4 linked regions of the Homo sapiens genome follow. The protein of the gene in region 2 interacts with the protein of the main gene of each other region in a pairwise test. Each region holds a gene or a part of one and is shown on either strand. Other genes may lie near its edges. The genes, in order: UBE2R2, DZIP3, UBR3 and BIRC3.

The links.
Region 1: the proteins of DZIP3 (region 2) and UBE2R2 interact in a two-hybrid assay, tested with the Homo sapiens proteins (one large-scale study listed by BioGRID and IntAct).
Region 3: the proteins of DZIP3 (region 2) and UBR3 interact in a two-hybrid assay, tested with the Homo sapiens proteins (one large-scale study listed by BioGRID and IntAct).
Region 4: the proteins of DZIP3 (region 2) and BIRC3 interact in a two-hybrid assay, tested with the Homo sapiens proteins (one large-scale study listed by BioGRID and IntAct).

Annotation. Positions count from the first base shown.
Region 1 is NC_000009.12:33,910,934-33,918,900, reverse strand, and holds part of UBE2R2 (ubiquitin-conjugating enzyme E2 R2), read right to left. Parts: intron 6,938-7,967; coding exon 6,803-6,937; intron 1,884-6,802; coding exon 1,664-1,883; 3' UTR 1-1,663. UniProt on the Homo sapiens protein: E2 ubiquitin-conjugating enzyme that accepts ubiquitin from an E1 ubiquitin-activating protein, and catalyzes its covalent attachment to other proteins by an E3 ubiquitin-protein ligase complex.
Region 2 is NC_000003.12:108,639,502-108,647,468, reverse strand, and holds part of DZIP3 (E3 ubiquitin-protein ligase DZIP3), read right to left. Parts: intron 5,032-7,967; coding exon 4,955-5,031; intron 3,306-4,954; coding exon 2,688-3,305; intron 853-2,687; coding exon 820-852; intron 1-819. UniProt on the Homo sapiens protein: E3 Ubiquitin ligase proteins mediate ubiquitination and subsequent proteasomal degradation of target proteins.
Region 3 is NC_000002.12:169,919,634-169,927,600, reverse strand, and holds part of UBR3 (E3 ubiquitin-protein ligase UBR3), read right to left. Parts: intron 3,673-7,967; coding exon 3,607-3,672; intron 3,518-3,606; coding exon 3,428-3,517; intron 1,983-3,427; coding exon 1,854-1,982; intron 910-1,853; coding exon 857-909; intron 764-856; coding exon 630-763; intron 282-629; coding exon 196-281; intron 1-195. UniProt on the Homo sapiens protein: E3 ubiquitin-protein ligase which is a component of the N-end rule pathway. Does not bind to proteins bearing specific N-terminal residues that are destabilizing according to the N-end rule, leading to their ubiquitination and subsequent degradation.
Region 4 is NC_000011.10:102,330,984-102,338,950, reverse strand, and holds part of BIRC3 (baculoviral IAP repeat-containing protein 3), read right to left. Parts: intron 7,953-7,967; coding exon 7,710-7,952; intron 2,986-7,709; coding exon 2,731-2,985; intron 2,192-2,730; coding exon 2,150-2,191; intron 2,043-2,149; coding exon 1,849-2,042; 3' UTR 1-1,848. UniProt on the Homo sapiens protein: Multi-functional protein which regulates not only caspases and apoptosis, but also modulates inflammatory signaling and immunity, mitogenic kinase signaling and cell proliferation, as well as cell invasion and metastasis.

The sequences.
Region 1 (7,967 bases), on a different chromosome or scaffold from region 2:
AAAACCCTGAGATCAGAATGGAAGGAGGAGCTAAGGAAGTAAGCGTCACCTACTCTGGCCATCCTAGGATCCCTCCTGCCCCGTCCCTAATCTGCCCTTTGGTTCTTTCTGAGTTACGAGCCAAAGGAGGAGTTGACACTAGTGCCCAGGGGTCTGAAATAGGACTACAGTCAGTCCTTGCTGCATTTTCCTTCTGAAATCTGATTTTACATTATAGCGGTTTCCTCCAAATAATGCCCTCCTATGATCTGGTGCACCCCCATAACAACCAAAAATTACCTTCAAGTTCTGAAGTCTCCTGGATGGTGAAGGCTGCTGGATCTCAATATTGATTGAAGCAACACGATTGAGATCTGGAAAATCAAAGCTGCAGCAAGTGCATTGCAGGAAGATCTAGCCTTATCTGGCCTAAAAACTGCCTGCAGTCAACTCCCTCAGCCCTGCCACAATTTCTATGCATAATTCTGCTTGCACTCCACAGCCTAAGTATGTTGAAAGGAGAAAAAAAGTTCAGATCACATCCAATGAAGAAGGCGGTAACTCGTCTCACACACATCCAAGTTTTTCACTATCAGTATAAGCAGCTCGATGAAAACCGAAATCTTAACACATGCACCTAGGATTAATACTGAGTAATTAAAAGTGGCTACTTAAAAAACAAAAACAAAACGTCATGGTACGAGTGTATTTTTGATGGGAAGGCCATGCTAAATCTATAAAACAGATGTTTCCTCTCCCAACAGTGGTCACCAGTAGTTTCAACTTTTTCCCCCCAGTAGCATCAACCAAACTTAGCATAGTGATTTTTAACTCTTTGCTCCCACACGCACTCATCCCAACTTCCCCGCTTGCCCCACTCCCTGGGGGGAAATAACCCTGCCTTTAAAATAAATAGCAACCAAGTGCTCAGTTCTATGGAAAGTATGAATATTTATTTCAGGCTTTCGATCCCAATCGATTTCAAAAAACAAAGTCTGATTTCTCTCCTCAGAGCAGCTGAGGCCTCCATGTTACGATGGTTTCATGGAGATTGAAGGAGCACATTTCATCAGGCTTAGCACAAAGTCCCTGATGCCCACCATGTCCCAGCCTTAGGAAAGGAAAGAAACAGAATTCACCACCATGGGGCTGAACGAATGCACACACACTAATGTAAATGAGCAGCTAAACCTTGGCAAATTTGTTTTTTTTTTTTTTTAAAGTTTGTTTTGTGGGTTTTTTTCCATTTTCTTTTGCTACCCAGTATATGCAGCACTTGTGAACTCCCAACAGGTTCCCAGCTTTAAACACATTAAACATCTTGAAAGACTATTGAATTCTTCAAGAATCTAAAAACAGACCAAACGTGTTTTGCTGTGAACATTCTGTAGAGACGAAGTGAGGCGGGAGTTTGGGTTCATATTTTTTAAAAAAAGAATCAATATAGTGATGGAAGGGTAAAGAATGCAAGAATTCAGACATTCTGTGGAGGGTTACTCTCTCTCCATTAAAGGTCCATAAAAAGGAGCAAACTGAGATCCATAAGGGGAGTCAGCAGGAGCTGTGTGTGTTTCCCCACCCGCTGTGAATAGGTTTTTGCTGAGGGGCCATGGCCAGGTCCCCACTTGCTCCCCTCCCTTTGGCCTGAGATGGCAGGGCAGTACAGGGGCACTGAAGGAGCACGTCACGACTCCTCATTCCCAGAATCATCATCATCATAACAGTCGGCATCTTCCTCCTCCTCATCTTCATCATCAATGTCGTCATCATACAAGTCGTCGTAAAGCAAATCTGAGCTGTTGTCATTGGAAGGCACTTTAGTTTTGATGCAGTATTCCGCCAGGGTTGTGGGGACCTTCACTCCATCCTTTTCTGCTTCGGCCTTAGTGGCTGAAACTTGTTTCCTGAAGGGAGGTTGACACAGAAATGGTTTACGGTAAGTCTTTTTTTAAGACAGATTTATAATTGGCCTTAAATAATCAATATTACTTATGACTCAGCTCTCCAAACTTCAGTACCTGCCTGAAAGCATCTGACAGATACCCTGTACTACACCAAATGCTTTCAACCCACTGGGTACAATTTTGAAGTAAACTTTGACTTTTTAGGAGGGGAAATACACTGTTAATATCAAGGGAGTTTAAAGCAGTGGATCAATTATAGCCAGAATCACCTCGTCAACTGGCTGTCCTCCGATTCATGTAAGGGCCAATAGGTCGGCGACTTAAGAATCAGAACAGGTATTGACTTAGTGGGCGGAATGTCATGCTTTGTTGTTTGCATGTGTGAAGCACAGGGATAACTGCCAGAATAAGAATAGATAATAGAAGGGCTAATACGCCTCCTAGTTTCTTGGGGCTAGATCATAAAGGTTGCATATGTGAATAAAACGTCCCACTCTGGTTTAATGTGGGGTGGGGTGCTTAGGGGATTGGCTAGGGTTTTGGCCTAGTCACCTCACCACCAAACTCAAGTGCCCCAACAATTCTTAATTTAATTATCCTCTTAATTTTCACTGACAGTAAAATTCAAATGCCTATGCCAGATTCCAGTGTCTTGCACGACCCACTCTTCCCCACCCAAGACGGAGTCTTGCTCTGTCACCCAGGCTGGAGTGCAGCGGCGTGATCTCGGCCCACTGCAACCTCCATCTCCCAGGTTCAAGCAATTCTCCTGCCTCAGCCTCCCAAGTAGCTGAGATTACAGGCTCCCGCCACCCCACCGGGCTAAATTTTGTATTTTTAGTAGAGATGGGGTTTCACCATGTTGGCCAGGCTGGTCTCGAACTCCTGGCCTCATGATCTGCCCACCTCGGCTTCCCAAAGTGTTGGGATTACAGGCATGAGCCACTGCACCCGGCCACATGACCCACTCTTGTATTTTCTCCAGCCCTTCAACACATTCACCCTGGTCTTTTTTTGGCATCTCGGACACACCTTGTTGATTTTTCTGTCTGGACCAGTTGCTCTTCCCCTGCCCCACACATGCCTGGCTCCTTCCTGTCACTCAGAATCACGGCCTCAGATATTAAGGCTTAAATATCACCTTAGAGAAGGCCTGGCCTGACAACCCAATTTAAAGCAGCCATCTAGTCATTCTTTCACATTATCCTACTTAGCACTATCTAGTATTTTTTGCTTGCTCACTCTTCTGTCTCCACATATTTGAATGTGAGCGTAAATGTCTTTCTTAGTCCCATTTCCCCAGTCAGTGCCTAGCACATAGCCTGGCACATAAGAGGTGTGCAATAAATACTGATTGTATGAATGAACAAACAATAAATTGTTTCCTTCAACAATTATAAAAATTTGAGTCATCAAGACTAGACCACTCTTCCTGATCTTCCTAATGTCAATCTCTTAGTTGTGCTTGAAGCTTTTCTTCTGTTGCCTTGCTTTGAATATTGATGGTCCTGAGGCTTCTGGGCTTCAATCTCCACACTCTCAGCACTCTCCCTGGGACATCATCTCTGTTCCCATAATTTTAACCACCACTCCCTTTATGCTGACAGCTCTTGGCTTATATAAACAAATGCCTTTTGGAAGCCTCTGTCCTAATGTTCCATATGCAGAGGTAGACTGCATATGCATTTTCTACCTCTATGGACAGTTTCTCCCATTTTACTTCTCTGAATAAATGAGCATTGCTTCTTAAAATAATAAATCTCACTCCAAAGACCTATTGCTTTACAGCTTAAATATTTTTATATCTGTCCCCTCATCCCCATTACTACTACCTCAGTTTAGTCCATGTTGGTCCCCTGGCCAACTATTTGATTTTTTTTTTTTTTTTGAGACAAGGTCTCCCACTGTCACCCAGGCTAGAGCACAGTGACGCAATCTCAGCTCATTGCAACCTCTGGCTCCAGAGCTCAAGCAATCCTCCCACCTCAGACTCCCAAGTAGCTGGGATTACAGGTATAAGCCACCTCTCCTGGCTAATTTTTTTGTAGAGATGGTATTTTGCCATGTTGCCCAGGCTTGTCTCAAACTCCTGGGCTCAAGCAATCTGCCCGCCTCGGCCTCCCAAAGTCCTGGGATTACAGGCGTGAGCCACTGTGCCCAGCTGACTGTCTTTTTTTTTTTTTTCTTTTGAGACGGTGTCTTGCTTTGTTTCCCAGGCTGGAGTGCAGTGGCGCGATCTCAGCTCACTGCAACCTCTGCCTCCCGGGTTCAAGCAATTCTCTTGCCTTCAGCCTCCCGAGTAGCTGGGATTACAGGTGTGTGCCACTATGCCCAACTAACTTTTATATTTTTTGGTAGAGATGGGATTTCACCATGTTGGCCAGGTTGGTCTCGAACTCTTGACCTCAGGTGATCCACCCGCCTCAAAATGTTGGGATTACAGGTGTGAGCTACCACACCAGGCAGCCAATTCTTTTATCAGAACTCAAATAGCATCACCTCTTCCCTCCCAAAAATATTTAAGTGGTACCCCATCACTTCTTACATTAAGAACCATACTCTTATCATGACTTCAATGTCTTTGAAGACCCTGGTGCCTCTCTTGCTTAATTTTCTAATATTTCCCACATCAGAATTTACACTCAAGCATTTGTAATCCCCTTAACATGTCATGCTGTTATACTCCTGTATTTTAGCAAACATGGGTATTTTCCCTTTTTTCACCTGAAAAAGTATTGGTTATAAGGAATTATCTCTGCTAGGAAATCTATTACATTATATATTTCTCCCAGTGTATCTTGTTTAGGCTTCTATAGGTATAATACTACATGGTCATTTGTTTTCAAATGCTAATAAAGTGAGCTCCCTAAGGAGACAGGCTATGCCTTAATGAGTACCTAACACAAAGCTGTTGCTTAGTGTCAGGTACTGTACTAGGTCATTAAGGAATAGATAGAATGAGATAAACGGACCCTTAAACAAATTAAGAAATATATAGAAGTACCTTGGGAATATGTATACCTAAGCTTTCTGATCTTTCAATCCTTAGTACACTCCCACTCCTCTAAATTTCTGTAGGATCTTAATATTTCTACTAATTATCTTCAATGTTTGGTACACATCAGTCACCTAGGTGAGATATATATACACACACAGATGCCCAAACTCTGTCCTTGTAATCCCATAAAAGACAGCTATTGTTTAGGGACAGTTTAAAAGTGATCCCAATGGGCAGAAAACTTAGAACTGCTGATTTTATATTACTCAGCAGTCACCTCATGTCCTTTCCCAGCATTGTTTTAACTTTTTTCATATCACATGGTCTCAAGCCAACTAGATTTTATTCTTATTTGTATAAATGCCAATGCTTAGTCAACTCCTATGCACAGAGGAAGCTGTAACTGTATTTGGGGTCTCTATTTTAAGAAATAAAAATGTAATATCAAGGGGGGTGGAGGCCAGGCACGGTGGCTCACACCTATAATCCCAGAGCTTTGGGAGGCTGAGGCAGGAGGATCACTTGAGGCCAAGAGTTCAAGACCAGGCTGGGCAACACAGCAAGACCTCATCTCTACAAAAATAATAATAGAAATTAGCTGGGTGTGGTGGTGCATGCCTATAGTCTTAGTTACTCAGGAGGCCCAGGTGGGAGGACTGCCTGAGCCCGGGAATTTGAAGTTACCATGTAATCACACCATTGCACTCCAGCCCAGGCAACAGAGTAAGACCATGTCTGTTTCTTTAAAAAGAGGTGGAGGAGGCTGAGTGCAGTGGCTCACGCCTGTAATTCCAGCACTTTGGGAGGCCAAGGCGGGTGGATCATGAGGTCAGGAGTTCGAGACTAGCTTGGCCAACATGGTGAAACCCTGTCACTACTAAAAATCCAAAAATTAGCTGGGCATGGTGGTAGGCGCCTATAATCCCAGCTACTCGGGAGGCTGAGGCAGGAGAATTGCTTGAACCCAGGAGATAGAGGCTGCAGTGAGCCGAGATCACACCACTGCACTCCGGCCTGGATGACAGAGTAAGACTCCATCTCAAAAAGAAAAAAAAAATTAATTAGAAACAAATAAAAAAGAGGTGGAGGGTAGGGGAAGTGTAGGGTTTGTATTTATTGCAAATTTCTTGGGTACTATTATAAGAACCTGATGTCCTAAGAGATTAAAGGTTAAGCTTTTTTCCATTTTATACAGAGGAGAAAGTAAAAGACCCCAAAAATTATCTGATAAATGGTCCCATGAGTAGATTCCAAGTCCCCTGAATCTTATTCTAGGGCTCTGTTATACCATACATTAGTGTTGCTGATAATGAGGATTTCCAAACAATCCTTGCTGCTATGGTCAGGAATGCCAATAAACTGGAAGGCTTTATTTATTCAATTTTTTTTTTTTTTTGAGATGGAGTCTCGCACTGTCGCCCAGGCTGGAGTGCAGTGGTGTGATCTCAGCTCACTGCAACATTCAACTCCCGGGTTCAAGCAATTCTCCTGCCTCAGCCTCCTGAGTAGCTGGGATGACAGGTGTGCACCACCACACCTGGCTAATTTTTGTATTTTTAGTAGAGACAGGGTTTCACCATGTTGGCCAGCCGGTCTCGAACTCCTGACCTCAGGTGATCCGCCTGCCTCAGCCTCCCAAAGTGCTGGGATTACAGGCATGAGCCACCATGCCTGGCCAGAACCTAGAAGTTCTGGTTCCTAGAAAATCAGGTCTGCTACTGCCTTATCTTCTAGTGGCTGTTCTCTCGGTAAACAGCAAAGTTCTTTAGGCTCAGGCAGAAATCTTCTCTTCCCACACTATAAATCTAATAGAGGAAAATTATCCTGGAATGGACAGGATATTTAAGTTTGATTTAAACCCTTGGTTCCAGAATATATTTTGGTTTTGTATAACTTGAGGTAATAAAAAAAAAAACCTTACCTAATAATTTCAGCATATTCTTTGTCTTTTCCTTTACTGTCTCTCCATTTCCTGAACATAACTGAAGCATCGACATTGGCTGGGGAGAAGGTGTTGGGCTCATTAAGCAGTGAGATTACACTTAATAGGATAGTCCTAGAAACAGGAAAAAAGGATCAGCTATGAATACCCATATTTACAGTATTTAAAAGTATTCTGCTTTTTAAGATAGTACAATCAGATTTCAAATTCTCCCTCCCTTAAAATTTTTCTGATACAATTAAATTTAAGACCTTGGGGGAATAGAGATATAAATTTTTTATTGATAGTTTTCATAAAAGGCATTTAAGAAAAATAAAAAAAAATTTTTTTCAGCACTAAGAAACAAGCTGCTAACTGGCAGGCAAAGCAGAGGAAATCTGTGATTCTAGTATAAGGGTAATGCACAAGTGATTCTAGTATAAGGGTAATGCACAAAGCATAAAAATGAACTTGATAGAAGGCCCTGTTTCAACTGGTCACATGTTCCAACCTACAGAAAGCAGATGTCTTAGAAGCTTTCAAATACTGTTTATTTTAAAAATTACAAATTAAATGGCATGGGGGAAAAAGCTTAAAATATTTAGTTTCAAGGCAATCTTGATGTGGGAGCTGGTAAAAATGATGCTATTCTATATAACCAGGTTTTTTTTTTTTTTTTTTTTTTTTTTTTTTTTTGAGATGGAGTTTCACTCTTGTTCCCCAGGCTGGAGTGCAATGGTGTGATCGCAACCTCCACATCCCAGGTTCAAGCGATTCTCCTGCCTGCCTCAGCCTCCCGAGTAGCTGGGATTACAGGCGCCTGCCACCATGCCCTGCTAATTTTGTATTTTTAGTAGAGATGGGGTTTCTCCATGTTGGTCAGACTGGTCTTGAACTCCTGACCTCAGGTGATCCGCCCTCCTCAACCTCCCAAAGTGCTACGATTAAAAGCATGAGCCACTACGCCCGGCCGTTTTTTTGTTTTGTTTTGTTTTTTGACAGGGTCTTGCTCTGTCACCCAGGCTGGAGTGCAGTGGTGCCATCTCAGCTCACTGTAACCTCTGCCTCCTGGGTTCAAGTAATTCTCCTGTCTCAGCCTCCTGAGTAGCTGGGATTACAGGCATTGTACTACCACGCCTGGCTAATTTTTGTATTTTTAGTAGGG
Region 2 (7,967 bases):
CCCCAGAGACTCAGTCTCAAAACTTGTGGACTTTGTCTGACTGGTCTCCAGAGAGTCCAGCATTTTATCCCAAACAAATCTGTGGTGGTGTTTTTTTTAAGTATAATTTTAATTGAATAATATTAATTACACTTAAAAAAAATAGCACAAAAATGGAAATTAAACAATTACAACTTATCACCTGGCAAAAAAAGTATATAGCTATAAACAATAGACAGACTAAATAAAGTTATACACGCTAAACACCAAACAGAGAAAGCAGGAAGGTATTTTTGCCTGCTGAAGTTTTTGTGAGTAAAACGTTAGAACATCATCCTTGGGAAAACCCTGAAGCACATGCACTAAGCCAAAGGCAGAATAAAGCTCATTCTCGATTCAGCCAGACCAGTGGTGATTTGATCACATCATTTTCCAAGTTCTTTTTTTTTGAGACTGAATCTCGCTCTGTCGCCCAGGCTGGAATGCAGTGGCGTGATCTTGGCTCACTGCAACCTCTGCCTTCCATGTTCAAGCAATTTTCCTGCCTCAGCCTCTTGAGTAGCTGGGACTACAGGCACCCGCCACCACACCTGGCTAATTTTTGTATTTTTAGTAGAGACGGGGTTTCACCATGTTGGCCAAGATGGTCTCGATCTCCTGACCTTGTGATCCACCTGCCTCAGCCTCCCAAAGTACAGGGATTATAGGCGTGAGCCACTGCGCCTGGCCCAAGTTCTTCACAATTATAGTTTATCATTTAGTTTATCTGAACAAATAAAAATTTCATAGGTATCCCTTGTTAAAAAGTCATTTACACATTTTATTTCTAAATATACTTACGCTGACTGCCTGTTATTGACTGTAGAGCAATTCCTATAATACATAAAGAAAAATTTTAGATGTACAATTGCAAACGCAACAAATGAATGTCTGGCTAGGATTAAGGCAGAATATTTTTATATTGCACCAATTTATTCTGTAAGTAACTGGAAAAATAACCAGCTTTGCTCATCAATCCAGTTTAGACAAGGCACAATCTTTAGATTATCACATAAAGGTTATAAACCCATGATTAGAGAAAAAAAAGTAAACAAAAATGTGGTATCACAGATAAAGCCTAGAACACAAGCACTTTAAACCAAGCAACGAATATTTATGTTTACCATCTAAGGCCATGAAATAATAGTTAATTACACAGCAAACCTCCACTGAAAGTTGGGACCTATTTTTAGCAATCTGATTTATCTGATCATCACTTGCTCTCCTTGCCCATTAATATTTATTGAGCACCTACAATGTACATCAGGCTGTGTTAAGCTCTAGAGATTGAATGGTGAAGAAAAAAAAAGACAATCTTCATGGAGATTTAGTGGGATGATGGATGTTAATCAAATTATCAGATATCCAAATAAAAAGCAACTAGAATAGCTGAGGAAAGAAATATAAGATGGTAAGAAAGCCTCTAGTAAAGGGACTTGACCAATAAGCTCTTCAGTGTACTTGAGTAAGAACTGCTTAAAATGCTTTGAATTGAATGGGTGCTCAAAACTCTTTCTCAAATACTCTATTCTCATGAATTATTTAAAATCCTAATAGAGTAAATGTATTTTTTAAAACCCTAATTTATAAGTCAAAAATTCTTGCCTGACTTTCTTATATATCAAACTCAGTGTCCTCCTCTTTCATTCTTAGATTATGCAAGAAAACAAAGGTATTCCAGAGCCTTAGTAAATACCAGGACTGAAATTGGGCACATCAATTATCTCTGAAGAAAATCTGGACCAGTTCACTAGAAACTTTTACAGTTGTATGTTTATATAGCATCAGTGTGGTTATCAGTTGTTCATTAGGCTGTAAATAACTTGAGACCAGGAAGTCATCCTGAATAGCACAGCAGGGTTTCAGAGATGTTGTCATGCCTTGAACTCTGCTTTCCAAAAGAATAGCTGAGAAGGTATCCTGAGATGTGGGAAAGGAGGTCTGAAGTCTTTTCCGTATCAATAGACAAGTTTGGGAGTGGCCAATACAAACACTTGCATGAATGTTACCTGATTTTTAAAATTATCTACAGCCAATGAATAGCTGCTAAAATTGTAAACTAAACAAGATTCTGCTAGAAAGTAGAAGAAACATACATCCACACTGTGTCTAAACGAACATCTTTGAAACCACACAGTACTTACATGTCATGGTTTTAAACTTTATTAATTTTGGAGAATAAAACTCCACTTAAAGTGATAAAACTGTACTCAAAAGTCTTCAACAATTTCTTTCTGAAAAATGCAGACTCCTTAATGTGACAAAAAAATCCTCTTGAATGTACTCTATGAACTCTCCCCTACTTTAATCTCAATGAAGCCAACATTTTTTAGTTGCCTGCAGTATATTTTTATGTTTCTATACCTTTATTTTTGTTTCCCTCTGAAACATTCTTCTCAGTCTGCTTCACCTGGCTAACTTCTGCACACCATTAATAGTTCTTTAACTATGATACTCTCCAGAAAGCTTTTTTGGACTTCTTTAGCCTAGGATTTCCCATGGTATTCTGGAAACATCTCTAGCACTATAATTTCTATTACCTTCCTGATGAGTCCATTTTCCCAAAACCATGAGCTCACTGAATCTCTTGCCCTTTGCACTGTGCCTGGCACAGAGCAGACATTCAATCAATGGAAGTTTATTGGCTGAAGTAAATAATCATTTAGTACCTTGTTGATAGCAGGATAACATCCTCTGTATGATTTCTGGTACTGGTATGCCTAGGTAGACAGATAGCTGATGGTAATCAAGGGAGATATTCTCAATGGGATTCTCCTTCACTTTGTCAATATCCTCTTGCATCATCCCAAGGCGCAGAAGAATATCTGAAACTTTTTTCCAAATTGAATTGAACTGTGACTCAGTGAGACCATTCATCAAAATCTCACTAAGGAGGATATCCCTGTATTTGCACAGTCTCAGGATGTCTGCAGATTTAGAGATGTCAGAAGATGGCGGTTCCATATTCCATCCTTTTTTGGGTGCAGGGAACACATTTAAATGTTTTATAAGAGCTAACAGGAGGCATAAGTCAAACTGTTTGGATTGCGGTAACTCCTTGTTAGGAGGATAAAGCAGATGCCATGATCCACCCAAAGGATGATTGGTCCAAAGATGGTTGTAGTAGGATTCCAGCACATTCTTGTGTATAAGAAGCTCTTTTTTCAAAAGAGGAGGTGGCATAGCCTCATCAAATATTTGTCGAACAATGTCAGTACCAGAAATAATAATTATATGAAGCAGATGATAGAAATAATTATAATCAAGCTTGAAGATAGGCATTTCATCTGAAAATAAATTTTGAGAAGTCAAGACATTCCACATTAATGCTCATTTTCTATTTGGTCTCTCACATTGTATCCTAAGCTCCTGTAGGATAAAAACTATTCCAAAAGAATGAAGGATAGTACAGTGCTTTGCCACAGCCAGTGCTCAATTAGCATGCTGCTTTCTGCCTGTCAAAAAACCTAAACAAAAACAACATGTTCCCAAGCAAAAGTAATAACAAAGACTAATCACCACAGAAGTCTTTCAGTCATCCAAGGTTTTGTTCAAGTAAATGACCTTTAGCAACAACATGGCATCACAGTATTAGGTCTTTAAAAATTCTGAAATTTGCCAAGAATGCTAATTGTCAATGTCTAACTATACTTTACTTAAACAATTATACTTTATCCTAATCAGCACTGCCCAATGGAACGTCATGTGATAAAATGTTTTATATTTGCACTAATACTCACTGAGCATTGGAAATGCGGTTTGGGTGACTAAGGAACTGAATTTTAAATTTAATTTTAATTAATTTAAATTTAAGTAGCCACATACAGCTAGGGACTGCTATACTAGATAGCTCAGATCTATATCAAGAAATGCCAAAAGATCTAGCTCCTTGCTACTCAAAGGGTAGCCCAGAGACCAGCAGCATCAAGCATCCACCTGAAAGCCTGTTAGGAAAGCACAGTCTCAGGCCCCACTCTAGACCTACTGAAATCTGCCTTTTAACAAAATTGCCGGATATTTCAAATATATGTATAATGCTTGAGAAACTGTGATCTAATAAACCTCATCTTCTCACCCCCTCAAAAAAAGATAAGTAGGTATTTCATCAATAACATGGAATAAGGCATGAAACTGAACTATTTGGTATTTTCCTGTTTTAACAGTGCTTTCAAAGGAGAAAAGTCGGCTGAAGTGAATTAGAAAGTACTAATAATTTAGTATATAATGGCATTTGGTGTTATATGGATATCAAAATATGTGTTTGTCACAAAATGCAGCCTTATTATTTTATCCTTCAAGATTCTATGTTTCAAGAGATTTATTAAATTAACGTTTTTGCTTGAAATACTTGATATACATTGTGGAGGCAAGTTAAAAAGCTAATGACACAGGGAGCTTTCTTTGGGTTACCAAATAAAAAGTTGGCTGGACTGCCACCAAACTATTCTTCTATGGGCCCAGGGTCCCTTAATTAAGGCCTCCAGGTTCTGGGCAGGACATTTCCTAGCACACTCCTAAGAAGCTGGCAGCTTAGTTTAGATTACTTAGCCTCAAAACTTGGCCTCAAACTCAAAATGTTCATTCCTTTCATGTAAGGGTACTCTAATGCTTGCTCTATTAAGAAGGAATGCAGCAAGGGAAGGAACAGTTGGTAGAAAACCTCTGCTGGAACACAATCCCACGGTATAGTCACAGCTATGCACCAGACCTAGCATGCCTCTCTATAGGATGTCAAGGTAATGTGAGATCCATAGATGTGCTGATCTTCCTGTCTGTGATTTCCAGCCTACACCAAGCGCTGCTTGCTGGTATAAACCCAAGCTCAGTGAATGACAAACACAGTAAAGACGTGGTTGTTAATGGCATGAAAGTTGACAGAGAAGTCAAAAATTTTAACATACTTTTCAACAGAAGGCATATAAAAATAAAATAATACCTTTTGTATTAAATTTTAAACTGATCTTCGGTCTTATATCAGTATCAGTTATTTTCAGAGATATCAACTTTCTATAACTGCAAAAGGAAAAAAATTAAGTTATAGTGGAAATAAAATAATACCAAAGTCAGTCAAGATTTCTAGTATGAGCATGGCTAAGTGAGTATTTTCATCTTCTCCTAGAAATAATTCAAGAAGGAGAAAAAATAATGAACAAATAGAGCTCACCAACAATGAAAACCCTACACTGTCACTTTCATTGGAATTATCAAGTAAGCAGTATTGCCAGATTTCATACTAAAACTATCACATTACAAACTTCCTTGCAAAAAGGCTGTGTGGTAGCAGAAAAAAAAGGAAAGAAAGCTTTGCATTGTAAGACAAAAAAAGCAAGCAAGCAAACAAAAAAATAGCAAATCTGGAAGTCCTCCCTGGCCCTCTCTTCACCATATAATATTTTTGGCAATAACTATTCCAAGAAACCCCAACTCATTTAACACCTACTGATTAAAAACAATAAAGATGCTAGTAGAACATCAATACAAATAATTAGAAAAATAAAAAATAAAGTAGCAAAATGTATTAACTAGACTAAGCACTAGGTAAATGCTGCCGTTAAACAGATGGCTTGGCTTTGAAATGAACCACGGAAAACAAAACAAAAAAATATTGGACAACAACGCTACAATGTAAGCTTAATGAGGAAAGGGATTTTGGTGGTGGTTGTTATTGTTAACTGATTCTATCTCCAGTACCACTATAACACTGTTAGTTGCACATTACATTGAAAAAATGTAAAACTCTGACAATATGAAGTTATTGGGGAAGATACTGAGTAAAAGGTATCTCCCATACTGTTGGTGGGGAGTGTACATTTGTAAAACCACTCTGGAAAACAATTTGGCAAAAGCTAGTAAAGTTATAGATATACACAGGTGGCCTAGCAATTCTACTTTTAGGTATATATTCTGGAAAATTTTCTGCTCATATTGACCTAGCGACATGTACAAGAGTGTTCACTGCAAAACTATTGTTATAGCCAGGACCTAGAAATAAACATCTGTTAATGGTAGAATAATTAAATTAGTGAAGCAATAATATAAAATTAGAGCAATAAAAATGAAAACACTACAACTATAATAGTAAGAATGGAATCACACTAAATATGATTTTAAAATGCATAAAACAAATGTTTCCATATATAATGTTCAAAACAGAAAAAATTAAACTACACTTATAAGTAACAATATATTATGTAATTTATAAAGTAAGTAGAAGTAAAACATATGAAAACAATAGCACAAAAGAGGGAAGAAATGGAAATCTATTATTGCAAGGTTCTTACACTATACATGCTGTGGTATAATTATTTTAAAATAAACTTTGACAAGTTAAAAATATGTATTGTAAGTCCTCAAGCAACCACTAAAAAAGGGTAAAACTAATAAACCAAACCAGAAAATAAACAATAAAGACAGATAGGGAAAACTAAAAACAACAAGGAAGACAGTAGATTTCCAACCATATAAATTAGTAAAGAAAATACAAATGGAATAAAAAAAAAACAATTTAAAAGCAGAGATTGTCATATTGTATATATAAAACAACAAAGACCTATGCCACCTACAAAGAAATACATAGGTTGAAGTAAATGGATGCAAAAGGATATACCATGCAAACACTAATCAAAAGAAAGCTGGAGTAGCTATATTAATATCAGACAAAAAACACTTAAGGCAAGAATATTATCAGGGTTAAAAAGAGATGTTAAGGCCGAGCATGGTGGCTCATGCCTGTAATCCCAGCACTTTGGGAGGCCGAAGAGGGTGGATCACGAGGTCAGAAGATGAAGACCATCCTAGCCAATGTGGTGAAACCCCGTCTCTACTAAAAATACAAAAATTAGCTGGGTGTGGTGGTGTGCACCTGTAGTCTCAGCTACTCAGGAGGCTGAGGCAGGAGAATCACTTGAACCTGGGAGGTGGAGATTGCAGTGAGCCGAGATCGTGCCACTGCACTCCAACCTGGGTGACAGGGCGAGACTCCGTCTCAAAAAAAAAAAAAAAAGGATGTTAAATAAGAATAAAGGAGTCAAATTGTCAAAAAAAAAAAAAAAAAGGTAACAATTCTAGATGTGTGTGTAGCATTTAATAAGAGTTTCTAGATATACAATTAGACAGTAGACAAAAAAAAAATGAATAGTATACTTCAACATTCCCTGAGTAACTGATAGAAAAAGTAAATAATCAAAAATGACATAGAATGCTGAAACAGAGCTGTAAACTAATTTCATCTAATGTACAGACTATTTCATTCAAGATCAGAAGACACATTATTTACAAATCCAAGTAGAACATTCACCAAGATATACAGTAGTATGATCATAAAATAAATTATTGCAAAGGAATTAAACTAAAAGTGAATATCTGGAAAGAGAGCTGAAATATTCCCAAACATTTGGCAATTAAACAAATACTCCTAAAGAGCCCATGGTTAAAACATACACACACACACAAAACTAGAAAACATTTAAAATACACTGAAAATATTAATAATAAATTTCTACACATCAAAACATATGGGGCAGCTAAAGCAATGCTTAATGTAAAATCAGTTTATAAAGAACAAAGGTCTCGAATCAATGATCAAAACTTTCACCTTAAAAAAAAATCAAAGCAAATTAAACCTAAAGCAAACAAAAGTAAGGAAATTACAAAGAACAAACATCAATGAAATTTAAAACAAAAATATTATAGAAAAATCAATAAAATTAAAAGCTGATTCTTTGAAAAGATCAACAAAATTGATAGACTTCTATCCAGAATGATCAAAAAAAAAAAGACACAAATTGCCAACATTAGGAATGAGAAAGGTGACATCGCTACAGAGAAAAGGTCTCTTTGGCTGAAGAAACCAGAAAACTGAAATGGAACCATGACTACTAAGAGAATGGGGGAATCCTATAAGTGGAAGTAATCAGAAAAGAGATCCCCAAATTCTTTCCCACAACGTC
Region 3 (7,967 bases), on a different chromosome or scaffold from region 2:
ACAGGAGGTTAAAAAAAAAAAAAAACAGTCACCAGGCTTGAATACATACTTGAGCACACAACTGGTGTTCTTCTTTTTCTATATTATTTTTCAACTTTGAAAAAAAATTAATCAAAAAATTGATAAACTATTAATCATAAAAAATACTTATTTTAGATCCTGCAACTAACAGAAAGTAAAATTTTAAAAGGATATGAGGTCCAGCAATGAACTGTGTGTCCTGTCATTCATACACAGCTGGGCTACCATCTCGGCCCTGAGAATCTCATCATCAGACATTCCTAAAATTATTAAAAACGGAATTAACAAATCTGAGTATACATAAATTATAAAGAAAAAAACTTACCACACTTTTTACTAAGCTGTTTTACCAAATATAAGATGCTTCAAATTAAAGAGTAAAGAAGCTATGCTCCAAACATAACTGCAGTTTAACTGCTGTTTGCAGTTCCCTTAAGCAAAGGATATTCTAAAAGGTATACCTACAGTACAACATATCAAGAGTTTGAAACATTGTTTACATTTATCTACATCCTTTCCTTTTTTCCCTAAGCCAGTTACTACCACAGGGAGGGGGAGAAAGGGAGGAAAACAGTTAATGCATAAGTATTAGTATCAGTGAGTTTTACCTAAATGTAAACGAAGACTCAAAAGAATCACAAGAAATGTAAGAGCGCCTTCTAACATCGACCTCTCATGCTCTGCATCAAGTACTGTATTTTGATGTTGTGATGCCATTGTCAACAAATCCACTACCTTAAATCTACAAGAAGAAATATTTGAAACATATTTTTATAAATTAAAACAAAATTAACTGGACACTTCCTAATACCTGTCTTAATAAAATTATGCCTACCTTTCAAAGACGGATGAAATAAAATAATCTGGGTCAAGTCTAGAAGCACAAACCTTTAAAAGAAAACAAAATGCTTTATTTCTCAATATTCAGTTTTCCTTCTTCTATTAATCATGTTTTTCTATACTTTTTTTTGTTTTTTGTTTTTTGTTTTTTGTTTTTGAGACAGAGTCTCACTCTCACCCAAGCTGGTGCAACCTCAGCTCACTGCAACCTCCACCTCTGCCTCCCAGGCTCAAGCAATTCTCATCCCCCAGTCTCCCGAGTAGCTGGGATTTACAGGTGTGTGCCACCACACCTGCCTAATTTTTGTATTTTTAGTAGAGACAGGGTTTCGACGTGTTGGCCAGGCTGGTCTCAAACTCCTGGCCTCAAGTGATCTGCCTGCCTTGGCCTCCCAGAGTGCTGGGATAACAGGCATGAGCCACCACGCCTGGCTATGATTTTTATTTTCTGTATATTATGATGTTTTGACATCTTGAGGGGCATTACAGACCTGAAGACAGATAGTCCCTCCCAGAGCCAGTTAATTCCTGAACATACTAAACAACTTACTTGGGAAAATGCCTGTCATGCAAGCCAACCACTGTCTTTATCTAACTCTCACACATCAACCCAGTATTTCCCCTCCCCTAAATCAACCCAGGGCCAGGTACCGCAGAGCCAGATACAGCCCCTATGCCTCAAAGCCTGCTGGAATTATTCAAATTAGCCAATCCTGCCTTGCCTTTCCTTGCCTTTCCTGCAGAAACCCCAATAAAGGCTCTGGCCTAGGCTCTCCCCTCACTCCTTTCTGCCTCTTGACCAAAATCTGGTGCTTTCCTTGTAGCCTTGTGTTGGGTGGTATGCCTCTTCTCCTGGGAAATGTAAGTAAAAAATTATTCTTTCAATGGCATTGGCCTCTCCATGTCATCACGCAGTCACCTCTATAAATTAAAATCCCTTGGGTACAAATGAGACACTTCTAAAGTATATCTGCATTATCTAGCTGGCTTACCTGTAACAGGTAAATGTCAGGATCAATCATGGAATTACAGAAATGAGACTGGACATACGTCATGGCTTGTCCTTTGATTTGCAGACCATTTCTTACCCACATATTGCTGTGGATTTCTGCAAGACTTGCCTAATAAAAGTAAATTGGACAAAGAATAAATTATCTAAATGCAATCTTTACAAAATATTATAAATAACCATTTCAAAATATTTAATGATGTGATCATAGTATAAGCCCGATATTCTGTCCAATGTTAAAGATAATCAGTTGAAATATACATTTTTACATTTTTTTTAACAATAATTATGTTTTTACATAGCCACTTTTTTAGAGTTTAAACAAATGAGTTGGTTTTCCATGTTGGCCTCTGGATACATTTATGATGATTTTCACTGACATCTTTCATAAGAAATCAATGCTTATGTTTCACTCTATTTCTCCCTCAAGAAAACCCTAAGTAACAACAACAACAATCCTAATATACATGTTTAAAGAAAGACACTAGAATAAGCATAAAATAAAACCAACTGTTCAAAGTCAATGAATACATTCTACATCTTTAATTCACCCTAACTCAATCTTAAATCTATACTGCTAATTTTCCAAATATTGGAGGTTAGAATAAATGTTCTCACTACATCAGTATTTAATTCTTCATGTATTTATGTCCAGTGTCAACTAAAACTAGGCAGTCATCATTTTTTTTGTTTTTTTTGAAACAGAATCTCACTCTGTCGCCAGACTGGAGTGCAGTGGCGCGATCTTGGCCCACTGCAACCTCTGTCTCCCAGGTTCAAGCAATTCTTCTTGCCTCAGCCTCCCGAGTAGCTGGGACTACAGGTGCACGCCACCATGCCCAGCTAATTTTTGTATATTCAGTAGAGACAAGGTTTCACCATGTTGGCCAGGATGGTCTCGATTTCTTGACCTCGTGATCTGCCCGCCTTGGCCTCCCAAAGTGCTGGAATTACAGGCGTGAGCCACCACACCTGGCTTCAAGCAGTCATAATTTTATGTTTCCTAACACCCAGAGTTCAAGTTCAATATTATAATAATTAACAAATCTAAAATTGCCAGGAAAAACAAATGGAAGTGCAAGTCCCTCTAATGTATATAAAAAGCTGGCCTGTCAAATTACATTGCTGGTATTAAAAGAAATCACAGTGCTTATATAAGCTAATTCTTCTCTCCTCTTTCTCCTCTCACTATACAGATAGGGAAACTGAGAATCAAGGAGGTGAATTACCTTAAACCTTGCGGAAAATAAAACAGTGGTAGCACCAAGGCTAGAATCTTTTGGATCTCCTGACTCCCAAAACAGTGCTATATAGTATGTTAAATACCACCCCATAAGCAAATATCATGAAAAGAATTCCTGGAAAAAGTAAAACTAAAAAGTAAATCTCATAAAATGAAAAATACCTAAACATAATCTAGCAAAAATACAATAACAACTTTTTAAAAAAAGTTTTCAAACATCTCAGCTATAATAACAATGAAAGGCATATAAATAAAGGAAGAATCACTTAAACAAGGAATCCACTTCAAAACTTTTTAAATGCCTGAATACATACTTGAATTTGGAGTGGGTGAATCATTAGTTTCATTAACATTTCCTGATCTGGTAAAACAGAATCCAAATCTAGTTCTTGACATTTCACAGCCTAAAAATTACAATAAAAAAGTTACTAATTCAATTCTTATTTCTGAAAATTAAAAAAAAAAGAACAGAATTGTTTAATGACAGTCTTACCTTACTCAAAAACATAGCATAGTAACGATGTAGTGGCAGATGAAAAGTGACTTGGTTAGGTGCTGGCTGGAATAAACAAACAAAATGCACAAGTCAAAGACTATTTTATAGAAATTTTAAGATGGTTGTAAAATGTTTAAACCATACTCTCACCTGGATTTATTCCTATACTTTTAGTTCAAAACTTAACATTTTAGAAGATGCAGATTCCAAAATCACTATAGATAAAATTTTTCCATTTTAAACACTTAAGTATAAGTTTCTTGAAGGCAGAAATTGTATTCTACTCAACTTTGAATCCTCTGAAGCATCCAGTACAGATTAATATTTCCTAAATTCAATTCAGCTAAAGCAAATAATTATTATTAAAACAAGGGATGGAATGGATTTCCAGCTACAGTAGACCATTTGGGACTCTTCAAACGCATGTATACCAAACATCATGACAGTAATAACAGTCACATATAACATTCATTGAACACTTCCTATGTGCCAGTCACCATGCTAAGCACTTTATTCACATTACCACATTTAATCCTCAGAAGAATGCTATGGGGTAGGAGCTACTAATATTCTCATTCTACAAGTAGCAAAATTCAAACTTAGAAAACTTAACTAACTTCCTAAAGTTCAAAAGTAGTGAACTGGGGAGCTAATCTGGACTCCACTGTCATATTCAAAACTGTAAGAAGACTCTGACCACATCCCTAAACAGAGGTATAAATGCAGGGCATCGTTAGATTCCTTCACCAGTTAGATAAGATGCTTCCAAACAGTACCAAACGCACCAGCCTCCATAACAAAACTTCATAAAAAATATGTGAATGACCTTAGGCATTCCTGTAAATATTACAAAAACTGTATTTTAAATCTGTGAATCCCATGGATCACAAAATCACTACAGGGCAAAAATACACCACAGCTGTCCTTCTTAAACAAATGAGTTAAGAACTGAAAAGGTATTGTTTGTTTTTAATGCTTTTTAAGTTCTTATTAAATATTCTCTTGTTAAAAATGTTTATCCCGGACATTCAGATAATTATGCTAATGTATATAATTTACATTATAGAGGTTATAAGGAGTCTAAATATGTCACCATCCCTGAAATAATTATTTTTTTCAAAACCAGTAAGATAATAATATCCTCTTCAATATGTAAAGGCTATAAAAATTTGTTCTAATAAATAAAAGTTTGCCCTCCATAAAAAGAAAGGAAAGTCTAACAATGTTCTGTAACATGAATAAACCTTCGGGATATTATGCTAAGTAAAATAAGCCAGTCACAAAAAGACAGTAACTATATGATTCCACCTATATGAGGTTCTTAGAGCAGCCAAATTCGTAGAGATACAAAGTAGAATGGTGGTTGCCAGAAGCTGGGGGAAGAGGAAATGGGGAGTAGCTATTTAATGAGTATAGTTTCAATTTTATGAGATAAAAAAGTTATGGAGATTGGCTGCACGACAATACAAATACACATAACACTACTGAACTATACACTTAAAAATGATTAAGATAGTGAATTTTATGTTTTCTGTGTATTTTACCACAATTAAAAATAAAATTTTAAAAAGTTTGCCCTCCATTACCATAATCGCCTTAGTAACATATTCTACACTAACTAGCTAAGTCAGAATCTCCCTCAATTTCCTTTGAGGCACTAAGCACAGTGGATAAGTGCAGACTCTTTTTTTTTTTTTTTTTTTAAATAGACAGGGTCTCACTCTGTGGCCCAGGGTGGAGTATGGTGGCACGATCACAGTTCGCTGCAACCTCCACCTCCCGGGCTCAAGTCATCCTCCCTCCTCGGCCCCCTGAGCAGCTGGGACTACAGACACACACCACCATGCCTGGCTAATTTCTGTTTTTGGTAGAGACAGGGTTTTTGCCATGTTGCCCAGACTGCTCTCGAACTCCTGGGCTCATGCAATCTGCCCGCCTCAGCCTCCCAAAGGATTGGAATTATAGACGTGAACCACCAGGCCCAGCCTAGGTGCAGACCCTTTTTTTGAGTCTCGCACTGTCCCCCAGACTGGAGTACGGTGGCGCGATCTCAGCTCACTGCAACCTCTGCCTCCCGGGTTCAAGCAATTCTCCTGCCTCAGCCTCCTGAGTAGCTGGGACTACAGGCATGTATTACCACACCGGCTAATTTTTGTATTTTTAGTAGAGACAGGGTTTCACCATGTTGCCCAGGCTGGTCTCAAACACCTGACCTCAAGTGATCCACCTGCCTCGGCCTCCCAAAGTGCTGGGACCAAAGGCGTGAACCACTGTGCCTGCTTCCTAAGTGCAGAATCCTGGTTCTACCACCCAGCTGTAAAACTATGGGCAAGTTACCTCTCTGTGCCTAAGTTGTCTGATCCTTAAAGTAGGAATAATAAAGAGTTTAGTAGCTGCGAGAAATAAGTAAAACAGCACAGTACCCAGTACATATTGCTATTAACTAGTAAGCCATGGACCCTATTTTATCTTTCAGGGCTTTAGCATATCCTATGTTCACATTCTCCATAACGTTAAAGTCCATATTCCTTCCTTGTCTAATGTCACAGACTGGCTACTTGATAAGCACTTCTTCTATTCCTATATATACTGAGAGTCCTTGGATTCCATTCTTCACTCTATAGTCTTCTATGTGAATTTATCCAGATTCACAGCTTCAGCTGCTAACTCTACCCAGATGAGTTCCAAATCTCAGTGGAAATCTCACTCCTGAACTCCAAATCTTACATTCAGGTGTCTACTGAACAGCAATACTTAATATTCCATAGGACCACAAATACAGCGTGTCCAAACCAAACTCAGTATCTTTGCCATAAAACTCAATCCTCCTCAATATTTCTTCTCCAGATTCCCAGTAATTTAAATATGAAATGTAGACTTCCTCCTTCTCACAAGCCTCCTATATTTGATGAGGTATCAAATTATGTTTACTTATTTTTTAAGTATCTCTTAAATCCACTTTCTTCTTTCTGTCTACACTGCACCTAACTAACCTTAGCTCAGGCCCTCAACACCTAGTGCCTAGATTTTAGTGATAACCCCTACTTCTACCATTATCCTGCATAAAACACCTTTTGTGGTGTCTGCCTAGCTCACAACCTTCCCATCTTCTCAGAATGTGTCTCCCTCTCCCACTCTCTGCCACCTCAACCACACACAGAGATTGGGGCCTGACAGTCAAGTTTATAGTAGCCATACTTGACTGGAGGCAGGGCAGGGGACATCTACCCCCGCTTGAGCAATGACTTTCTCTCTTAAAAAATTTGAACTAGGATTCAGAGACATTCACAGACAATCTGGGAGTATGCCTGAAATGGTAACGTTAGGCAACTATAAAAAGGCAGTATTTCACCACATAGGCAAAGCACAGGAAGGGAAGAAAAAATGAGGCACATACACTCAGGGCAAAGCAAAGGCAGGCGACAGGAGTTCCTATTCAGATTTCCAGTCCATCCCTGAGGTCCAGGTGCCCTAACCCTGAGACATCCCTATGTATTCATAATAAATTACTGCTTTTACTTTATTATTATACTTTAAGTTTTAGGGTACATGTGCACAATGTGCAGGTTTGTTACATATGTATACATGTGCCATGTTGGTGTGCTGCACCCATTAACTCTTCATTTAACATTAGGTATATCTCCTAATGCTGTCCCTCTCCCCTCCCTCCACCCCACAACAGGCCCTGGTGTGTGACGTTCCCCTTCCTGTGTCCGTGTGTTCTCATTGTTCAATTCCCACCTATGAGTGAGAACATGCGGTGTTTGGTTTTTTGTCCTTGCAATAGTTTGCTGAGAATGATGGTTTCTAGCTTCATCCATGTCCCTACAAAGGACATGAACTCATCATTTTTTATGGCTGGAATATACACATATTCCATGGCGTATATCTGCCACGTTTTCTTAATCCACTCTATCATTGTTGGACATTTGGGTTGGTTCCAAGTCTTTGCTATTGTGAATAGTGCCGCTATAAACATACGTGTGCATGTGTCTTTATAGAGGCATGATTTATAACCCTTTGGGTATATACCCAGTCATGGGATGGCTGGGTCAAATGGTATTTCTAGTTCTAGATCCCTGAGGAATCGCCACACTGACTTCCACAATGGTTGAACTAGTTTACAGTCCCACCAACAGTGTAAAAGTGTTCCTATTTCTCCACATCCTCTCCAGCACCTGTTGTTTCCTGACTTTTTAATGACTGCCATTCTAACTGGTGTGAGATGGTATCTAATTGTGGTTTTGATTTGCATTTCTCTGATGGCCAGTGATGATGAGCATTTTTTCATGTGTCTTTTGGCTGCATAAATGTCTTCTTTTGAGAAGTGTCTGTTCATATCCTTTGCCCACTTTTTG
Region 4 (7,967 bases), on a different chromosome or scaffold from region 2:
GGGGCTCAGAAAACCCAAAGTGAAGGCCTCAGAAGCAAAGTTTTTCTCTGATGTTATCCTGCCCTCCTGTCTCAGCCTCATTCTCCCTGAAGGCAAGCCACAGAAACTTGAATTCCTCTTCCCCAAGGTAGGTCATAGAAACTGGAACCATCTTTCCACAATGCCAGACTTACATCTTAAAGATAGTACTCTAATCTTTCCTCACCTAACTATGTAAGAGCTGGCCATAAATAAATTCTCTGACCTACCTTGCTTGATAGCAGGTTATAATATCCCCATCCCATACAGGCCCTGCCCTATATCCAGGAGGAAGGAATGCTGCACAGAGACCAAGAATAATCTGAACAGACAGGCCTTGCTGGGTCCCCAACCTGTGTCTATTCCCATTAGATCATATCCTTTTTTTCCAATCACTATTCTTCAGGGCTGTCCATTCATTATCAAACCTAAGCATAAAAATGCACAGTTTCCCCTGTAATTTTGGATCTTCATTACGAAGGCTCCCCGGTGATGTAAATCTGTGATTAAATAAATTTGTTAAGTTTTTCTCTTGTTAACCTGTCTTTTGTTATAGGATTGTCAGCTGTGACCCTTATGAAGGGGTCTTTCCCTTCTGCCCTTACAGAGCCATCTGCCCCTATACAGACATCTAGAACTGGTTTAGATGACTAGCCTTTGCCTGCCTTCCCCTGAGTATTCCCTATTACAGTCTTACTTCTGCTCTTGAAGACCTAATACCTCTATAAGAAGCAAAGGACAGAGTTATGACTCGGACGTGTTGAGTACCAATAACATAATGCAGAGGGGGACATTTTGTTGCACTGACAATATGAAACAGATTTATTTACCAGAACAACCTGTTGGTCCCAAGCATTGCTAACCAGTGTACTTTCTAAGTTTCAGAATTAATACCAAAGAGATAAGAATAAAACTCAGACCTTCTTCCAATAGGTGGGGCTGGCATGAGACTTCTTGAATGAATCAATAGAGAAGTGAATAAACAAACTTACTAAAGGGACTGTTTGATTCTTGTCTCAGGCATTCCATAATAGATTTTATGATGTGTTGACCCCGTGTTCTACAAGTGTCAATGAAGAAGCATCTTATGGGAAGGAGTATAAACTGTAGTTCAATATTTGAGAGGCTTTAAGAAGGTATGGAAAGAGTCTGGGAGTGACTAAACTATCCAATGTCATTGAAATAAAGCAATGAAGAATAAGAGTAATTTTTGTTGCTTTATTAAATTTTTTCTCACAGAATTCTTTATAAAAACACCATGTCCCTAAAATGTCATTCAACATATATGCACACCTTCGATGTATAGGACACTGATCAAAAAAGACAGAGAAATGTGTCCCTGGTGTTTTGTTTTTGTTCTGTTTGTTTTTAAAGGCAGGGTCTCAGTATGCTGCCCAGGATGGATTCAAACTCCTGGGCTCAAGTAATTCTCTTGCCTCAGCCTGGGACTACAGGCACATACCACCACACCTGGCTTCATGTTCCCGGTATTAGTACAATGCCAAAATATTTAAAATTCTTAAAGGTTAACTCAAATATCTTAAGTTTTACTTCACTTACAATTTCAATAATGCTGAAATTTTGATTGAATATTGTGTTTGTAGTGCTACCTCTTTTTCGTTCATAAGAACAAAAGCCTATCATTCTCTTAGTTTCTAAAAAATATATGTTCATATGGTTTAGATACATATATAAATATGTTACACAAAACAATGTTTTTTGAGTTGTAAATAAATAAAAATTTTAAGGAAACCAAATTAGGATAAAAGTTAAAGTTATAATACATTTAATAAATTAATTCTAAAGTTTAGACGATGTTTTGGTTCTTCTTCATGAAAGAAATGTACGAACTGTACCCTTGATTGTACTCCTACAAATAGGACACTTTCTTAAAGAAGGAGCACAATCTTTGCATACTACTAGATGACCACAAGGAATAAACACTATGGACACTTCTTTGTCCATACACACTTTACATGTTCTTTCTTCTTGTAGTCTCCGCAATTGTTCTTCCACTGGTAGATCTAGAAAGAGGAAAGAATTTTTAATAAAAGGCAGTTTGCTTCTTCAGTGAAAAACTAAGAAAATAAAGACAATGTTCTCTATTGATTTAAAATATTAGTACTATTACCTGAAACATCTTCTGTGGGAATATATTTTATGTCCTGTTGCACTAAGGGAGAAAAAGAAAAAGCATTACTATGACAAATAAGGTTAATATTTAGCTATGGAATCTATTTTAAAAATGAACACTTTAGACTATAGCCAAATACTCATTTCAAGGCAACAGAAGTCTTTAATCTTTTTATGTAACTAATATCTATAAATTAGATTGATTTTTTTTTGAGACAGAGTCTGTCACCCAAGCTGGAGTGCAGTGGCACAATCACAGCTCATGGGAGCCTCTATCTCTCAGGCTTAAGCCATCCTCCCACCTCATCCTCTTGAGTAGCTGGGATTACCAGGCATACACCATCACAAATAATTTGTTTTAAAAATTTTTTGTAGTGATGGGGTCTCGCCACGTTGTCCAGTCTGGTCTCAAACTCCTGGGCTCAAGCAATCCACCTGCCTCAGCCTCCCAAGGTGTTAGGATTACAGGCATGAGTCACCACATTCAGCCTGAATTATTTTCAGTAGTCATAAATTATTAATAAGAGCGTATTTTCAATTGACTTAGAAAATTTTTAAAAATAATTTTCTATCACTCACCAAATAAATGCTCATATAACACAGCTTCAGCTTCTTGCAGAGAGTTTCTGAATACAGTGGCTGCAATATTTCCTTTTACTAAAATCGTATCAATCAGTTCTCTTGCTTGTAAAGACGTCTGTGTCTTCTGTTTAATAACATCATGTTCTTGTTCATTAATAATTCCGGCAGTTAGTAGACTATCCAGGATTGGAATTACACAAGTCAAATGTTGAAAAAGTGCCATTCTATTCTTCCGGATTAATAATAAATCATCTTTATAAAAAAGAAAACAAGCATAAACATGTTCAAACTCTGCTCACAAACTTCCTTCCAGTCCTATATATATAGCAGGATAAAAACTATCTTTAATTCGTAATCAGTAAGGCATTGATGTTGATTGCTAGGTTTAGGGGTGTCTCATCTCCTTTGCTTAATAATAATGTTATTATAATTATAATCCAGGGTGCAGTGGCACATGCCTGTAGCACCAGCTACTTGGGAGGCTGAGGTAGGAGGATCACTTGAGCCCTGGAGTCAGAGACCAGACTGGGCAACATAGCAATACCCTGTCTTAAAAAAATATAATAATAATAATAATAATGCTACTTATAGTAAGGACTAACATTTAGTGAGCACTGTGTTAAGAACTTTACATGTATTGATTCATTTCATCTTCACAACAGCTCTTTGAGGTAGGTCCTAATAGCCTCATTTAACAAATGAGAAAATGAAGCTGCAGTGAGGCAATTAAGTTGCCGAAGGACACCACAACTAGCAAAAATCAAACTGAGGTAGTCTGGTGTCATGTACTGTGCTTTCAATCATTTGGCAATACTGCTAAGCCTTTAACCAAATGGAACTTAGAACCCATTAAAATTGACGTTTCAATTCAATCTAGTCAAATTGGGGAAAGACAAAATCAAGAGAATTAAAACAATTTTTTCTTAAAGTGTCATTCTTCCATAAAATTTCTTTTATTATTTATTTATTCATTTTTAAAACAGAGTCTTGCTCTGTCGCCCAGGCTGGAGTGCAGTGGTGCGATCTCAGCTCACTGCAACCTCTGCCTCCCAGGTTAAAGCTATTTTTGTGCCTGAGCCTCCTGAGTAGTTGGGATTACAGGCATGTGCCACTACATCCAGCTAATTTTTTGTAGTTTTAGTAGAGATGAGGTTTCACCATGTTGGCCAGCCTGGTCTCGAACTCCTGGCCTCGAGTGATCCGCCCACTCCGGCCTCCAAAAGTGCTGGGATTACAAGTGTGAGCCATTATGTCCGGCCCATAAAATTTCTTTAAAATTCCATTTTAAGTTGAAATTTTAATTATTTCCAGAAATTAGACATATTGCCATTACCTAAATATTTTATAGTAAGCAGGGAAAGGCAGTAACAGCATTTTGAATAATAAACCCTATTTGTCAACGACTACCTTCTCGTCCTACAAGATATCATCTAATTCTCCTTCAAGACCTAGATTTTGTATCCATTGGTAAAACATTTTATATTTTAAAACTGCAGTTTTATTATCTCTTTGGAATATAACTTATGAATCTAAGTTTATTAATTTTCATATAGCTTACCATAATCCATAAAGCTGTTTCTAAAAAATAACTAATGACAGAGGCTGAGCTATCTGAAGAATTGTTTTGGGAGAGAGGATTGTTAGATTTTAGATACACTGACTTTGTCAAGTGATAGGACTCATAAAAAGAACCATTTAAGAAAGAATAAAAAATGGAAAAAAGAAAACAGCAAAAATCAAAAACAACAACCAGAAAATAAAGATGATGCTTAGTCAAAAAGACAAGGCTAAAGACATATTTTGAAAATAATGGAAGCTCTGAGAATAAATGAGAAAAGGGTCAGGAGCTAGAATAGTGTCTGGCACAAAGTTAATGCTCCATAAATATCTGTTGAACAAATGAACAATCAAACCTTAGTTCTATAATTTAAAGAGTAGGAATGAAAAGTAATGGTGAGAGGGGTAGAAGACTTAGAACTTAATATATTTTGTTAAATTATTTCTATTAGCAAAGTAGGGATATATTAGAAAATAAAAATACAAACTTGGTGTTGAAGTATACTAGTTTTTCAATCTAAGATTTATTTTTGTAATTATACGTAACCTAATATAATGCATTCTCTGAAGTTCTTAAGATTTCTAAAATTTAATTGCTAGTAACTGAGAAAAAGTCTCATTTCAAAGTTGTAGACTATATTCTGGTTTGCAAGTTCAGAAGACTTGAGTAGCTGGGATTACCAGGCATACACCATCACAAATACTTTGTTTTAAAAATTTTTTGTAGTGATGGGGTCTCGCCACGTTGTCCAGTCTGGTCTCAAACTCCTGGGCTCAAGCAATCCACCTGCCTCAGCCTCCCAAGGTGTTAGGATTACAGGCATGAGTCACCACATTCAGCCTGAATTAAAACAATTTTTTCTTAAAGTATCATTCTTCCATAAAATTTCTTTTATTATTTATTTATTCATTTTTAAAACAGAGTCTTGCTCTGTCACCCAGGCTGGAGTGCAGCGGTGCGATCTCAGCTCACTGCAACCTCTGCCTCCCAGGTTCAAGCTATTTTTGTACCTGAGCCTCCTGAGTAGTTGCCTTTGAAGCATATTATTAATTTTGTTTTTGCTTTTCTTTCTTTCTTTTTTTTTTTTCTTTTAGAGAGTGTCTCACTCTGTTGCCCAGGCTGGAATGCAGTGGCATATGATCATAGCTCATTGCAGCCTCAACCTCCCTGGGCTCAAGTGGTCCTCCCACCTCAGCCTCCTGAGTAGAGCTGGGACTACAGACACATGCCACCACACCCTGCTAATTTTTATATTTGTTTATACAGACAGGGTTTTGCTATGTTGCCCAGCCTGGTCTTGAACTCCTGGGCTTAAGCGATCTGCCTGCCTCAGCCTCCCAAAGTGCTGTGATTACAGGTGTGAGCCACCACACTCAGCCATATTATTATTTTATTCTGGGAAAAAAAAAATCTTAAATTACCTCTTTATTTATATCCCTACTATTCTTGGGAAACTATAACGTAATCATTAACCTAAATGTGTTTTCATTCACTCACTCACAACACAGACTATATGCAGGCACGATACTAGGTAGTAGAGATATATATATAATGGTGAGGCAGAAACGCTAAGGGCTCTTTTTCACAATGTAAATTATTATATATTGTTGACTTGAAGTCATTTCTGGAGACTTTTCTGATTGTCTTTGAAAGAAATATAAATATTTTATAAGTGGATAGTTTTAGATTTTATGGGGTCTCTCAACAGTTGTGGAGATAAGTGTTCTCTTCTTTGAGCAATTGTTGGCTGATGACAAATGGCTACCACTAAGAAGGCTACAGGAAGGACATGCTTGCCTAATCTTCACAGAGAAAAGAGAATTTGATGAGGCTGGGCAAAGGTTAACCGTGACTGTATTGCTGCTACACTAGTGGTTTATAGACTGAGTAATTCACACTTTGGTGAATGTATGATGCTATATCACTATGGTCTGATAGGTTTGTCTGGGTTGGGTCAGAGAACAAATCCATCTTCATGGGCAGGGTTGGATTTATCCCTAAATGAAGTGGACAATCTGACTGTCAATCATCCTGTGAAGAAATAGATCCCAGATGGCCTTGCACAAGGATAAGGAGAAATCTTTATTCTCCTTCTGAGCTTTATGAATATTGGGGGGGCCTGAATTTTGATAAAGGAAAACATTATTGGGACATTCCTAGTGACTTGTGTAAACTTGCCAAAGCTACACAGAGATGAACCAGAAGCTAGGCAGGGGAGATTTATGAGGATGAGCCCGGGGGCACTAAGAGAGGTCACAGCTAGTTGCAGCTGTAAATCAACATTTGTGATATAATTCCCTTCCGTTTTCCTTAAGTCTCCAGTAAGAGCTTGTTAAAAGTTGCAGTCTGTTTTCAGCTGTGTTGAAGGGACTTATAGGTCTGGTCCATGCTTGGGAAAGGAGAGATCAGCATTTCTTTTTGTCTAGGACAGAATGATGATAGCAGTCAAAACAGCCAGATGAGAATGTATGTGCCCAGAAGAGTTTTTGTGAAGGGCAATAGAGAACATAGTGGATACGTTTAGTATGGAAGGACATGAACAACTTGTCCTAAGAGATTGTGAAACAGTATACTAGGACTTGCCTAAATAATCGACGGATGCTCTGGAAGACTCAGTTCTTGTGTGGACAGGTAGGGGACTTAATAGTAATTTGTGTATTAATGTATAGTCACAGGCTAAGACATGCTTTTATGCTAACATTAAAATTAATAACCATCCAGCCAGGCACGGTGGCTCATGCCTGTAATCCCAGCACTTTGGGAGGCCGAGGCGGGCGGATCACTTGAGGTCAGGAGTTTGAGACCAGTGTGGCCAACATGGAGAAATCCCTTCTCTACTAAAAATACAAAAATTAGCCTGGCATGGTGGCAGGTGCCTGTAATCCCAGCTAAGGGAAGGAGGCACGAGAATTGCTTGAACCCAGGAGGCAGAAGTTGCAGTGAGTTGAGATCATGCCACTGCACTCCAGCATGGGTGACAGAGTAAGACTGTCTCAAAAAAAAATTAATAATTGTCCCTGATCCCACCCTGATTTACTCCAAAGGGGAGTGAGCAACTAGCCTGGGATTAAAAATGTGCCATGATGCAACAAGGATTCCATTTTCAAAGCGTTAAGAAAAAAAAAATGTGCCATGAATGCATAATTGGACACAACGTCAGCTATCCAGAGAAAAAAATATGAATTAAGGAAAAACATGAAAAATACTTTTGTACATCATACATTTTTGACTTATGAGCAACTCAAATATATTTGAATATGAATAAATTTTTCAGCATTTGAATTCAGAATACTAAACATGAAAAAAACCTGACTGGATTGAGTATATTTTCAGATATGCTAGATGAGTATATTTTTCATAACATATAGACTGATATCAAATCCTTATGAAAATAGACTGTATTAATAAATCTACATACTTGATTCTTTTTCCTCAGTTGCTCTTTCTCTCTCCTCTTCCCTTATTTCATCTTCTGCATTGAGTAAGTCTAACACAAGATCATTGACTAGTCTATAATTCTCTCCAGTTGCTAGGATTTTTCTCTGAACTGTCTGTTTTACCAGGCTTCTACTAAAGCCCATTTCCACGGCAGCATTAATCACAGGAGTATTCATCATGATTGCATCTTCTGAATGGTCTTCTCCAGGTTCAAAATGGATAACTATATGGAACAAAG